Homo sapiens: one gene and its partners. The protein of the gene in region 2 interacts with the protein of the main gene of each other region in a pairwise test. Each region holds a gene or a part of one and is shown on either strand. Other genes may lie near its edges.

Evidence for each region.
Region 1: the proteins of SEPTIN8 (region 2) and SH3GL3 interact in a two-hybrid assay, tested with the Homo sapiens proteins (one large-scale study listed by BioGRID and IntAct).
Region 3: the proteins of SEPTIN8 (region 2) and JADE1 interact in a two-hybrid assay, tested with the Homo sapiens proteins (one large-scale study listed by BioGRID and IntAct).

The regions. Positions count from the first base shown.
Region 1 is NC_000015.10:83,586,841-83,591,088, reverse strand, and holds part of SH3GL3 (endophilin-A3), read right to left. Parts: exon of another isoform or gene 4,114-4,248; intron 4,107-4,113; coding exon 4,003-4,106; intron 3,732-4,002; exon of another isoform or gene 3,576-3,731; intron 2,428-3,575; coding exon 2,318-2,427; intron 1-2,317. UniProt on the Homo sapiens protein: Implicated in endocytosis. May recruit other proteins to membranes with high curvature.
Region 2 is NC_000005.10:132,759,514-132,764,511, forward strand, and holds part of SEPTIN8 (septin-8), read right to left. Parts: intron 4,907-4,998; coding exon 4,711-4,906; intron 4,380-4,710; coding exon 4,193-4,379; intron 3,133-4,192; coding exon 2,971-3,132; intron 2,384-2,970; coding exon 2,287-2,383; intron 2,114-2,286; coding exon 1,945-2,113; intron 1,753-1,944; coding exon 1,620-1,752; intron 1,480-1,619; coding exon 1,289-1,479; exon of another isoform or gene 424-1,288; intron 212-423; exon of another isoform or gene 1-211. UniProt on the Homo sapiens protein: Filament-forming cytoskeletal GTPase. May play a role in platelet secretion. Seems to participate in the process of SNARE complex formation in synaptic vesicles.
Region 3 is NC_000004.12:128,816,200-128,820,447, forward strand, and holds part of JADE1 (protein Jade-1), read left to right. Parts: intron 1-248; exon of another isoform or gene 249-264; intron 265-4,248.

The DNA of each region.
Region 1 (4,248 bases), on a different chromosome or scaffold from region 2:
TTGCAGTGAGCCGAGATTGCACCACTCTACTCCAGCCTGGGCTACAGAGTGAGACTCTGTCTCAAAAAAAAGAAAAAGAAAAGAAAATATTTATTATTTAGGGCTAGGCAAAGAATTCCTAGACTTCACACAATCTATAAAACTAAACATGAATACATTGGACTTCATAAGAATTAAAAATTTTGATCTGTGAAAGACCCTATTAAGAGGATTAAAAGATAAGCTACAGAGCGAGAGAATATATTTGCAAATCACATATATAGAAAGAACCTGTATTGAGAATAAATCAAGCATTCTCAAGACTCAACAGTAAAAATGTAAACAATCCAATTAGAAAATGGACAAAAGACATGAAGAAACATTTCACCAAAGAGGATACACAGATGGCAAATAAACACATGAAAAGATATTCAACATCATTAGTCACTAAGGAAATGCAAATTAAACCCACAGTAAGATTAATTACACACCTATCAAAGTGGCTAAAATAAAAAACAGTGACAACAGCAAATGCTGGCAGGGATGTGGAGAAACTAGATCACTAATATATTGCTGGTGGGGATGTGAAATGGTAGCACAACTCTGAAAGATAGTTTGGGAATTTCTTTTCATTTAGAAAAATAAATCCTTATGATAAAGATCTAAATATTAAGAAAAGATTATTCAAAGTAGTAGAAAACTGTAGAAGAATAACTTCAGGGATAGGAAGACTTTTCACAACAGGGCACAAAATGTAATCATGACAGGGCACAAAATGTAAAGTCACAAGCAAAAGACAGACACATTTGACTACATCAAAATAAAAGCTTCTGTATACTCAAAGCAAAACTAAACAAAGCAAACAACAGCAAAAACAACAAAGGGACAAGGCACTCCAAAAACAAAGTTTAAAGATAAATGACAAACTAGGAAAAAAATTATTAATATCCTCATATGGAAAGAGCTCCTATAAAACAATAAGACAAAGCAAACTACTCCCAAAAAACACAAATAAATGACATAAACAGACAATTCAGACATAAGGAAATACAAATTAAAATATAGAAAAGAAAGTTCACCCTCACTAATAATCATGAAAATGCAAATTAAGACTGGATACCATTTTTTTCTCATGAGTGCTTGGCAGAAATGGAAGTCTACTGGCATGGGTGTGGGGAAGCAGGTGTTCATGCTTTAATAGTAATGTAGCCAGCACAGTGATAAAGGATACTCACTGTAGCAAATAACTGGAAAAAACCTTAACGTCCACCAATAGGGAAATGGTATAATAGAAAACTATGAAGCTGTTAAAACAGTGGGATAGATCTATATGCATGATATGGAAATAACTCGAAGAAACAGTGATACATTTTAAAAAGCAAACTGCCAAACAATATGCCTAGTATAATCTCGCATTTAAAAAACAGAAAAAAGGCTGGGTACAGTGGCTCATGCCTATAATCCCAGCACTTCAGAAGGCCGAGGCAGAAGGATTGCTTGAGCCCAGGAGTTGCAGGCCAGCCTGGGCAACAAAGTAAGACCTTGTCTCTACAAAAAATAAAAAAATTTGCCTGGCAGGGTCACATACACCTGTAGTTCCAGCTACATGGAAGGCTGAGGCAGGAGGATTGCTTGAGCCCAGGAGGTCAAGGCTGCACCGAGCCATGTTCATGCCATTGCACTACAGCCTGGGTGACAGAGCAAGACTTTGTCTCAAAAAAGAAAAAAAGAAAAAACAGAAAAAAATCCAAAACGCTGTTTATGTGTATATTTATGTACCTCAATAGATATGATAATAGTTATACCAAATTTTTTTAACAGTGGCTACATCTAGGAAGCGAACTGCGATGGTGTAGGTGATCACAAGAGACTATAGAATGACTTATACCATTAAATTTTTTTTTCTGTTTGATTATTTTACCAATTTTTTTCTGTTTGATTATTTTACTAAAAGACACATTTGCATCACTTGTTTAATAAAAAATAACGATGCAGCACTTAAGATAGTATCTAGCATATAGCAGTTGCTCAAAAATGCTAATTTCAACTTAAAAATAAATTAAGAAAATATTTTCAAAGAGTTAAAAAAATAAAGGATGATGTAGCCATAATGGTTCTATGGCCAAGGTTCTAAATGCTACATTATATAAGTGATAGAATTCTTCCCCAGGGAACAGAAAAAAGGGGCACGTTTAGGGGAAAAGGGAATTTACCAAACAACCAAAGAAAGATATCCAGGGTCTGTGTGTATTCACTGACCCAGAAACAAGCAGTAAATAAGTGTTTCTAGAAGTGCTTTACTAAAGGCACACTTAGCATATTAGAATGGTCAACTTACCTGTCGTCTTCACTACAGAGGTGGTGGAAACTCCATTGAGCTCACTAGAACTCCTTTTCACAGGCCTTGGCTTGTATTCTCGTCTGGGGACACTGGATGCAGCTGATATTCTGTAACACACATCGTAAGATGAGCCAGACATCTGATGTTGAAAGCTTTCCAAACACACATCCTCTCTGCCTTGTTGAGCACAGGAACTTAGGTTACAGCCAGTGGTCATGAAAGGGACGATTTTTACACACTGACTCTTGAGTAGCCCGAAGTGATGGAGGTGATATCACAAATGCAGTTTTTCAACTCCCTATTTGAGCTTGTGAGTGAAATTCATCTTGAAGAAGACTAATTGGGCCAGCCATGGTGGCTCATGCCTGTAATCCCAGCACTTTGGGAGGCCAAGGTGCTCACCTGAGGTCAGGAGTTCGAGATCAGCCTGGCCAACATGGTGAAACCCCATCTCTACGAAAAATACAAAAATTAGCCAGGCATGGTGGTGGGCGCCTGTAATCCCAGCTACTCGGGAGGCTTAGGCAGGAGAATCTCTTGAAACTGGAAGGTGGAGGCTGCAGTGAGCAGAGGTTACGGTGAGCCAAGATGGCGCCACTGCACTCCAGCCTGGGCAACAGAGCACGACTCCATCTCAAAACAAAACAAAACAAAACAAAAGACTAATTTTCTTCATCAAGTCTCTGAGGCATCCAGCAAGTGCCTGGGACGCGGTCGGCACCCAGTGATGGGAGCTGCCTTCTCCCTCACTCTACTCTTATAGATTATGATAGAATTATGAAAATACACTCCTGTCAGTAACAGGTAAACTATCTGCCTGCAGAAGTGGATGCTTCAGGGACTGAACACATCTTTGTCTTCCCTAGGTAACTACGTCATTGATTTAAGTAAAAATCCCTCCAAATTTATGCATTACCATAATCCTGTGTAAAACAATTTTCTGTTATCAAACCTAATTTAAAATATTTTAATAAACAGGGTTGCCATGCAGACTATATATAATATTACTAATTTTCAGAAAAGTATAGACTACATCTATGATTAAATTCACAAGGAATGCAGAAACCTTTCTTTGATTGTTCAGAAGATATTTTTGACTCTTTCAATACCTGTCAATATTATGAACACAGCCTGAAATTTGTCAATATTTTGACTCTTTCAATACTAGTCAATATTATGAACATATCCTGAAATTCGTACTGGTGAAGTGAAGGCACTACCTTTTTTTTTTTTTTTTTTTTTTACAGATATTTACATATTTTCCATACAGCATCTCACTTTTTTCCATAGCTCTGGATGTTTTCCATCCCTTTGTGAATGGGGAGTTAAACTCTCATCAAATCAGCAATGAAGCCAGGGTAGTTCTGTAGGGGTTGATGTCCCAGGTGGGAGAGCAACTTGGTTAGTTGCCCTAAACACGGGTCACAAAAAAAAGGGATTTAATGAAAAGAAAAAGGAGAAAAGCTGCCAGGTCCCTTTTCCCAGTTCTATCCTACTGGCCAAAGCCAGTACTTATTATCTCAGTCCCATCCCACATCCAACCATGAAAGCCAGTGAAAGAAAATTCAAAACAGAATGAGGCAGGGGAAGGGGGAGATGGAGAGATGGAGAGACAGACAGATGGATTTCAATAGATGTTACCTCCGCAGCCCTTGGCTTGTAAGAAACGTGGAGGTGCTTACCGCATCTGTAGCTTGCTCTGCAGCTCCTGCAGAATCTCTGTGGACTGTCTGTGATAGTCTAATGCTGCCTCTATGAACACAGCCAACTGGCTGACTTGTTCTACCTGCAGCAGAAGTGCAAAATTATTCCATGGAGGCCCGAGCCTGTGTAATGTCCAGAGAGAGAGGAGACCAGCAGCAAAGACCTAGCTTTGCAGGGAAGACCAGTGTCTGCCTTGGTCCATTTCATTTAATTTCATGTAGGAG
Region 2 (4,998 bases):
AATCCTGGCTACCTTTTCTTTAACAAGATGGCAGGAAGCAGGGCAAAGTCACTTTGGGTGCCAGTACCTGGGTCACAGACTCCCGCTGGCCCTAATGGCTAGGCTCCATTGCCACCAAGGAAGGAAGGGCCTGGGCATACACATCCCCAAATATCCCAGGAGGAAATGGATCCCGAGAATGACGGCCAGGTTGGGTTCACCTGCTTAGTTCCTAGGTTGGCAAGAGAAGGATGGTACCCAAGATAGGCCGGGGCAGGGAGAAGCAGGGATGGATGGGATCCCCACAGTGTGACATAGCATGGCTGTGAATGAGGTGGGTGGGCGAGGGTGAGCCCCAGAAGCCAGGACATCTGGACTCCAGCTAAGGGTGTGGAAACAGGCTATGAAGATCGCCAGGGAGAAGTGACTCATAGTTGTCCCCACCTGACTACTCCGTTGACTGCACTCCTGGTGCTGGGAAAGGCCTCCCTGCCATCCAGTCTTTCTCTCCTCTCTCCACTCTGCAGGAACAACTCCAGCCTCTACTTGAGGGGCAGCTCTTCTCCCCAAAAGAACCCACAGAGCCCCTGTGGGAAGCCGCTTTCCTCCCTTAAGCCCTGCGGGCCCTTCAGAACAGCTGTGTGGTGACCAGTCTCCAGGAGGCCAGTGTTGGCTGGCGCGAGTGCCCGCAGTTCTCCATCACCACCTGCCAGCCAATACGGGCTCCACACCACTGCCCCACAGACTGAGGAGGGATGCGCCACAGGTGTCCAAGCAGAAACCACCACGGCTTTTGGAATCTGGCTGGAGATGCTGACATTCCCAGGTCCTGTCCCGCCCCTGGCCTGAAAGACCATTCCCAGCATTCCCAGAGCCCTGCAGCTTCGCCCTCTCCACGCTGCTCCTCACCCGTGCAGCCCCACCTTCACCACGCTGCAACAGGGCCACAGCTGCCAAGGGGGCTATGGGAGAGCGAATGGGTGAGCAAGAAAGTTGGAGGAAGAGGAAGAAGGGGGAAGAGAAGGAGAGAAAAAGGGAGAAGGGAGAGGGAGGGGGAGCACAAGATTGCCTGTGCAAGTGAGACTGCATGAGTATCAGAGCAATCCAGACGGCGAGACACTGGATCACTAGTGAAAGAAAAAGGCAACCAAGAAAGCTGGGGGGAGAGCCACTGAAGATGAGGGAAAACCAAACAGGAAAGGGGTAAGAGAGGGCGAGCAGGAGAGCGAGAAGGGAGGTGAGGGACAAGAACGAAAGCAAGAGCCCACAGGAGCAAGAGGAGCCAGCGCAGGCGCAGCCTGCCACCTACTTCTTCTTGTCCTTGTCCTTCCTCAGGGGCTGCTGCGAGGTGGCGTGCAAGGCCTGCGACTGCAGGGCCTCCACCGCAGCCTTCCGGCGATTGAAGGCGTTGGTCTCCTCCTCCAGTTCCCGGCGCTTTTCCTCCACCTTGCGCTTCTCCTCCTGGTGGACCCGCTTCAGGTGCTCAAACTTCTCATGGAGCTGGCATCAGAAAGGGGGCAGAAGATGCGGGGAGCAAGAGGAGGGCTTGAGCCTGGGCCAGGAAGGCACCCCCACCTCTACCCTCAGCCAGGCCTTCCCTCCCTCAGCTTCCCCATCCCAGCCCCCAGCCTGGCACATACCTCCCTTTCCTTCTCCTTCAGCTCCAGCTCTGTCTCCTTCACTTTGTTGACAAACATCTGCCTCATCTCTTCCTCCTTCCTCTGCAGCTCACTTAGGAACTCCTTCCTCTTGGCCTCGTATGTCTCTTGTAGGCTGTGGAGACCCAGAGAAAAGAGGCCAAGGATGGGATTATGACGGAATGGGATAGGGCAGGGCAGAGCCAGAGAAGTAGAATCATGTGGGCACGAGGGGTAAGAGGATGTGGGGTCCCTCAGGGAACAGATGCCAGGGTGGTGTGTCTGGCCACAGCTGTGAAGACAGGCTCACTCTGGCTCAGGCTGTCACCTGAAGGGCTGGCTGTCACCATCGCTGTCCTGAAAGCCCATCTCCTCCAACTTGCAGCGCCGGTAGAGCTCGTAGTGCCGGCTGTGGGTCTGCTCGCGGAGGTCTTCCATGTTCACCCGGATCAACATCTCCCGCAGCTTCACGAAGTCGCAGTGATTCTCATTCTCCACTGAAAGCAGAGGGCCGGTGGGGTATCAGGCAGGCATGCAGGCGGGCACACTCCAGAGTCAGGGTAGGCACGCAGGTGGGCATGAGGAGGAAACAGCACAGGGTACTACAGGCAGCAGGGCAGGCCAGGGAACTCAGTTCTACCCCCAGGATGCATTTCCTGTCCACACTCACCCTGCACCACTCCCCAGGGGTACTGCCGTGCTCGGACCAGCTTGTTCCCCACCTTCACCTCCTCGGTGCTGCCCACCACGGCAAAGGGCAGATGTGCCTGGAAAGGGGCCCGGGTATGCGTAAGCCCTGAGCTGACACAGACTAATGGCAGACTCTCCCTCCCTGCCCCTGGGTCCTAGGGAGGGGCAGCCAGACCTGAACAAAGGCTCCAGGGCCAGATGCTTACTTCCTGGCTCTCTTCTGGAGAAATGTCCCAGAACTCCAAACAGGGGAGTGGGCTGAACCCTCAACCCCCTCCCTGGTGCTCCTGATTCTCCAGGCTGTTCTTTCAGCACTCGGGCCTCCCAGGGGCCATTAGAGCTTCCTGAAAGGACCTGTGAGCCTGGCTCCCTTCCAGGTTCCCAAACCCTTAAGCCTGCTCAACTGCTTCCATTTCCAGGCTCCTCCATGAGTCCAGATCTTATGACACCCAAACCTGGGGTCCCCAGTGTAGGCCCACTATCAGATTCTTCCTGTCCCCTGCCCACAGATGTAGGACTGGCCAGCTCCAGATGCCCACCCTTCTGTCCTGGAGAAGCTAAGGCTGGAATCCTGGGGAACAAGAGTCTCCTGGGGCTGTGTCAGATCTGTGCCGGCTCCTCGCCCTCTGGCCCCAGGGCCCTGAGGCCCTCACCCAACGCTCACATTCATGACTGCGTTAATCTCTGCAACAGCCTCATCATCCGTGGGGAACTGGTAGATCTGGACCCCGTTGCTGACCAACTCGCCCATGATCTTGATCTTGAACTTGTGGAGCTCGCTCTTGGAGATGGTGTCAGCCTTGGCGATGATGGGAATAATGTTCACCTGCCAGGATCAGGGGAGGGGACAGCAGGCTGGTTGGCTCTTTTGAGCGGTGGTTCCCATGCCATGCCCAGGATATGGATAGACATGCCCAGGCCATATCCCTGGGCAGGGGGAAGGAGGCCAGAGAGATGGAGCCACTCCCACGGGCAGCCATAGTGCAAACCCAGCCACCTGTGGCCATTCTGATGAGTTTCAACAATTGGCTGCAGTGCTTCTTACAGCCCTGGTTCCCCCAAATCACCATCCAGCCCCAAAACTGGTCCCCCTAGGCATACCCAGCTTTGACCCAGAATCCTTTGAAGGTCCTAATTGGCCTGGGGCCTAACAGAAGGAGTGGTGGGGGGGCTATGCTCCCCACTAAGCAGGTAAAAGGACCCATCAGCAGTAGCCATAAGAAGATCCCAAAATCTCCCAGGCCCAGGCTATCCCGTTTTTTACAATAAAAATGAACTCCTGAGATGGGAGGGCAGTCACGTGAGAGCTGACAAGGGATGTGGGGTCACATGCCCTTCAAGATGCACAGCACTTCCAGTCCTTCCCATGAAGCTGCCTCCCTTCTCTACCCCTACAGTACCCACCCCTCATTCACATCCCATTTCTGGGCCTTAACTCTCCTCTCCCTGATGGGCTCAGAAGGAACCAAAGGACATTTATGTCAGGGAGGAAGGGGGAAGTGAAAGGAGGAGCTAGAAATTAGGAATTGAGAGATAGAAAATGAGCAGAGAAGAGGCTGAGATGGGAAGGGAGGTTCCCTGGAGCGAAGGGGAACAAACACTATCGGGAGCGGGAGGGGCTGACAATGAGAATGATTCAGCTGCAAGCAAGGGGCTCAGGGTCAGACCCAGGGCACAGGACTCTGGAGAATGAGCCCAGAGCATTGGGGGCCACTGGAGCAGGAGGAACAGACGCAAGACAGAGAGAGGACCGAGCCAATGGGGGGCCACCCACAAGCCCCCGACCAGGTCCCTGAGGACCATGGTGTTCAGGCATGAGGCAGCCACCACATCGCATCGCAGCAGAAGACTATGGAGCCTGTGACAGCAGGTGGGGACAGGGATACCTTGCTGTCTAGTTTCTTCATGGTCACTAGATCTAGAGACTTCAGGGAGTGCCCTGTGGGCGTGATGAAGTAGAGGCAAACGTGGATCCTTGTGTCATGGTAGTCGAAGAGCGAGCGGCGGATCTTCAGCTCCTCCTGCAGATAATTTTCAAACTGCGCATCGATGTAGTCAACTATGGGCCTGTAACTACAGACAGCTCCATCACCCAGGAGGCTGCCAGCTGAGATCAGGGGCTTGGGGCTTGGGGGGCTCAGGGCTCGGGGCCAAGCCAGGCTGCCCCCTGGCCTTTTCTTTCTGGGAACAGCTTCTGCCTGAGATCCCTGACTGGATACAGGCAGCTGACCCCTTCTCCAGACACCTAAAGGAGTAACTGGTCTGTTGGTGACCACAGAGCCTCAGATATTCCCCAAGAGGCCCTCCCTGGCCCCCTGCAGTGTGAGGGCTGGGCTACTGTTATAGGGGCCAATGTAGGTGGGGTGGGAGGAGGCTGGGTGGGGCCGCCCTTCCCGCCTCTTGCCTCTCATCCTTATTGATCTGATCCCCAAAGCCCACGGCATCCACAATGGTCAGCTTGAGCTGCACGTTGCTCTCCTGGAGGTCATAGGTCTGGGGCCGCAGGCGCACGCATGCCTCATGGTGACTGGCTTCCTCAGTCTCGAAGGTCGTGTTGAAGAGTGTGTTCATCAGTGTGGATTTGCCAATGCCGGTCTCCCCTGGGCAGTGAGGACAGGAGGGGAAGAAGTGGGTGTCATAGGCTGGAAATGGGCTGTCCTTGACTGGTGGCTAGGCCAGGCAGGGCTCAGGC
Region 3 (4,248 bases), on a different chromosome or scaffold from region 2:
AATCTGGACAATTCTTTTTATGTTTGTGGAATGTAATATCTCAGAAGTTGAGATTTAGTTGAGTCTATTGAGTCTATTGTCCTTTGCCTAGTGTATTTCTCATATGAAAACTTTGGTTTGTGATCATGAGGGTGTATGCATTATTTTTATTTTTTCTTTTTTTGCAGTTCATAGCCCTGATGAAGCAAGTTACTCTGCTCTCCTAATAAATGCAAGAAAATGACCTTGGAGGGCCTTTTTAATTACACATAGAAGTGACAATTTGTAAGTTTAAGGTTGGGTGTCATGGAATAGAATGGAAGAAATTGATGCTAAAAACTTTGGCTATGATGGGGCCTTTCCTAGCCCAGGACTTGAATGATTATTAAGGATCCTTTCCTCACCTCAAAGCACAAACATAAAGATTACCAGACTTGGACTGGAAAGCCTTTATCACTAGGAAAGGGGCCATGTATTTTTACGTTTAATCCCTTAGACCCATAGTGTACGATGTGCACACAGTAAATGTTCAGTGACCAAATTTTGGTTACTCTAAAACGAATTCAGTATTTACTTTTTGCCTTTAGTTCTTCAGGTAGAGGTAGGACATAATGTGATAGAGAGCAGTTGAAGAAAGTTAATTTTTAAAACCTTAGATTTTTTTGGGCTTACTTGTTGAGGGAAGTAAACTACATTTTCTCTCTCTTTTTTTTTTTTTGAGACAAGTTCTTGCTCTGTCACCCAGGGTGGAGTGCAGTGGTGGGATCTCGGCTCACTGCAGTGGGTTCAAGTGAGTCAGCCTCCGGAGTAGCTGGGATCACAGGCGCATGCCGCCGTGTCTGTCTAATTTTTGTATTTTTAGTAGAGACGGGGTTTTACCATGTTGGCCAGGCTGGTCTCAAACTCCTGACCTCAAGTGACCCACCTACCTCGGCCTCCCAAAGTGCTAGATTACAGGTGTGAACCACCATGACTGGCCAGTTTTCTATTACTTTGAAAGCGCTCACAATTGACATCTGTCTCTTTGTATTTTTTGTTAGAGAGATGAGGTTTCACTATGTTGCTCAGGTTGCCCAGGCTAGTCTTGAACTCCAGAGCTGAGTCCTCCCGCCCTGGCTTCCTAACTGCGATTACAAGTGTGCACCTGTGTGGCTGGTGGAAGTAATATTTTAAACTATTGATCATTTAGTGTCTCCTGTGCAGGAGATTTTATTATTTTGAGAATTCATGGCATCTTCCATGAGAGTTTATAAGGACTTACTTTAAGTGAAGATTTCAGTGGTGTGGGTCCACACTGAGGCATAAAATAATCTTTTTGTTTGTTTGTTTCCCACTTAAACCAGGGTAAGGAACAAGAAATAGCAATGTTATTAGCAAGTTGCTTGAGGTTGAACTTCATGGCTTGCTTTAATTTAGCACAAAGTACACTAAATGCAATTTAAATTTTTTATTGATTACTCTTTGTCATAATCTTTACGAGCATCAGTTACTTCCATGTGGAAATGCCATGATGCACTTAACATATAGAGGCTGAGTGTTGGTGGTTGTAACTTTTTAAGTTGGGGACACTTGACACTGAAACCCATGGAAGCTCTCCCCCAGAAAACATGGGTGTTTCCTTAAGCACATCCTTGGATTCTAGTTTAAGTGTTTAAATTCTGGTGACTTCTTTTTATGATTTCTCTGTGATCCTTTTACTGCCACTGTTACCATGTATTGTAGTTAAAATGCCTGTTGAGAACAGTGATTTTTCTGCTTATTGGTCATTAACTTGAAAATCAAATAAGAAGCCTGTTAGAAGTTTTTAAAACTTGTGTACACTGGCTCCAAGTAGGAGCCTCAGGGGTTTTCTTTTGAGAAAAACCCACTGGTTTTACTGTGGCCTTTATTTAAGTTGCTTAGAGGTCTCCTCAATGCCTTCCTTTTGATTATTCTAGTTAGGGACTTCTTTTTTTTTTTTGAGATAGAGTCTTGCTCTGTTATGCAGGATGGAGTGCAGTGGCATGATCTGGGCTCACTGCAACGTCTGTCTCCTGGGTTCAAGCAATTCTCCTGCCTCAGCCTCCCGAGTAGCTGGGATTACAGGCGTGTGCCACCATGCCCTGCTAATTTTTGTATTTTTAGTAGAGACGAGGTTTCACCATGTTGGCCAGGCTGGTCTCGAACTCTTGACCTCAGGTGATGCACCCGCCTCAGCCTCCCCAAGTGGTGGGATTAGAAACGTGAGCCACCATGGCCGGCCATAGTTAGGGACTTCCTAAGGAGTGATTGTGTCTGATCCTTAATTTTGTAAGCTTTCGGTTGCTTGTCCAGCACCTGGTAATTGATTCACATTGAACTAAACACGCATAATGGTGGTTTATAAACATCATACTACTGATCGGTTGATTTATAGGACAGATCAGTTGCCTTTCTCTGTAAAGAGCCAGGTAGTCAATATTTTAGGTTTTGTGGGTCATATGGTCTGTCGCAACTGCTCAAGTCTGCAGTTGTGCCAGAGCAACCATGGGCAAAATGAATGTGAAAGTGATATTTATGGATATAGAAATGTAAAATTTTTATGAATTTTGTATGTCATGAAATGTTCTTTGGCCCTCTACCCTCAACCATTTCAATATGTGAAAATCACTCTTAGCTCAAAAACCATACAGAAACAGGCTGTTGACCCCTGATTGGTTGATTGATTGATTTGAGACAGGGTCTCACCCTGTTGTCCAGGCTGGAGTGCAGTGGTGTAAATTCCAGGGCTCACTTGATCCTCCCATCTCAGCCTCCCCAGTAGCTGGGACTGCAGGCATCCCACACCAGGCCTGGCTAGTTTTTTGTATTTTTTGTAGAGATGGGGTTTGCTATGTTTCTTTGTTCTCGAACTCCTGAGCTCAAAGGTTCTGCCCACTTTGGCCATCACTCCCTGGCCTCCCCAGATTTATAGTAAGACACAGCAGCTACTTGATTGTTTCTGCTGGTGGCTGAGCTCCCTTCTAGGAACCTGAAAATGCAAGTTGAAATTAGAAGTTTGTTTGGAGGTAGTTGGCTACGCTGAGGGCTGTGGGTTGTTTTTGTTTCGCTCTTTTTGCCCAGGCTGGAGTGCAATGGTGGTTTTTTTTTTGGGGGGCAGGCTCTCTCTGCTGCTCAGGCAGTAGTGCAGTGGCACGATCACGGCTCAGCAACCTTCTGGTCTCAGGCAGTTCTCCTGCCTTAGCTTCTGGAGTAGCTGGGATTCTGATCCTAGATCCCTTTTGAGGATAAAATGTGTAAGAACAAATACCTTGGTCATCTCTCACACCCTCCGGGGGGGTCAAGCTAAGAAGACCTGTGTAAGAGGATATGTATTATAAGATTGTGTTCCACTACAGAGGGAGATAATGTCAAGTAGGGTGTATGTGTCACAGCAATCAGAAGTTAATGCCTACCACTCCGGGAGAACTCATACTCCTGTGGTAGTGTTTAAGGAACTGCTGACACATTCTTCCAGCTTTACCTTTTGTGTGCTTCACTATGCAAAATGAATGGCATTTGTGACCATCTTGCCATGAATCTGTGTTTCAGTTTTCAAGTTAACAGACTGTTGTTCATTGATTACATTTTCAGTTTTTGCTCTCTGATAACGTATCATGGCCTTAGTCATTCACATGACCTCTTTTTAAATCCCAGTGTACATCCAGGAGGAAGAAGCCCATAGTCCAGGAATCTGGGAGGAGGTGGCTGGCACAGGAGGAGAGTGCCCCTCCACCCACCTGGGGAACTGGTCTTTGGTTCTTCCACTGCCTTTGCACTAGATCTACTTATGTGTGTTTGTGCAAGTTGATAAACATGCAGAAATCCATGTACTCCTCTTTAAAAGTAGGAAAGGTGGATTAAATTATTTTAAATTGTTTTTGAAATCCTCTCTAGCTCTGCAGTTAATTATGATTTTATGGGTTTCTTTTGGGAAGATTTCTTTTTTTTTTTGAGATGGAGTCTTGCTTTGTCACCCAGGTTGGAGTGCAGTGGCATGATCTTGGCTCACTGCAACCTCCATCTCCTGGGTTCATGCAATTCTCCTGCTTCAGCCTCCCAAGTAGCTGGGATTACAGGCATGTGCCACCATGCCTGGCTAATTTTTGTATTTTTGGTAGAGGCAGGGTTTCACCATATTGGTCAGGCTGGTCTTGAACTCCTGACCTCAAGTGATCCACCCACCTCACCCTCCCAAAGTGCTGGGATTACAGGCGTGAGCCACCACGCCTGGCTTTCTTTTGGGAAGATTTCTTCTAGACACAATCTGTG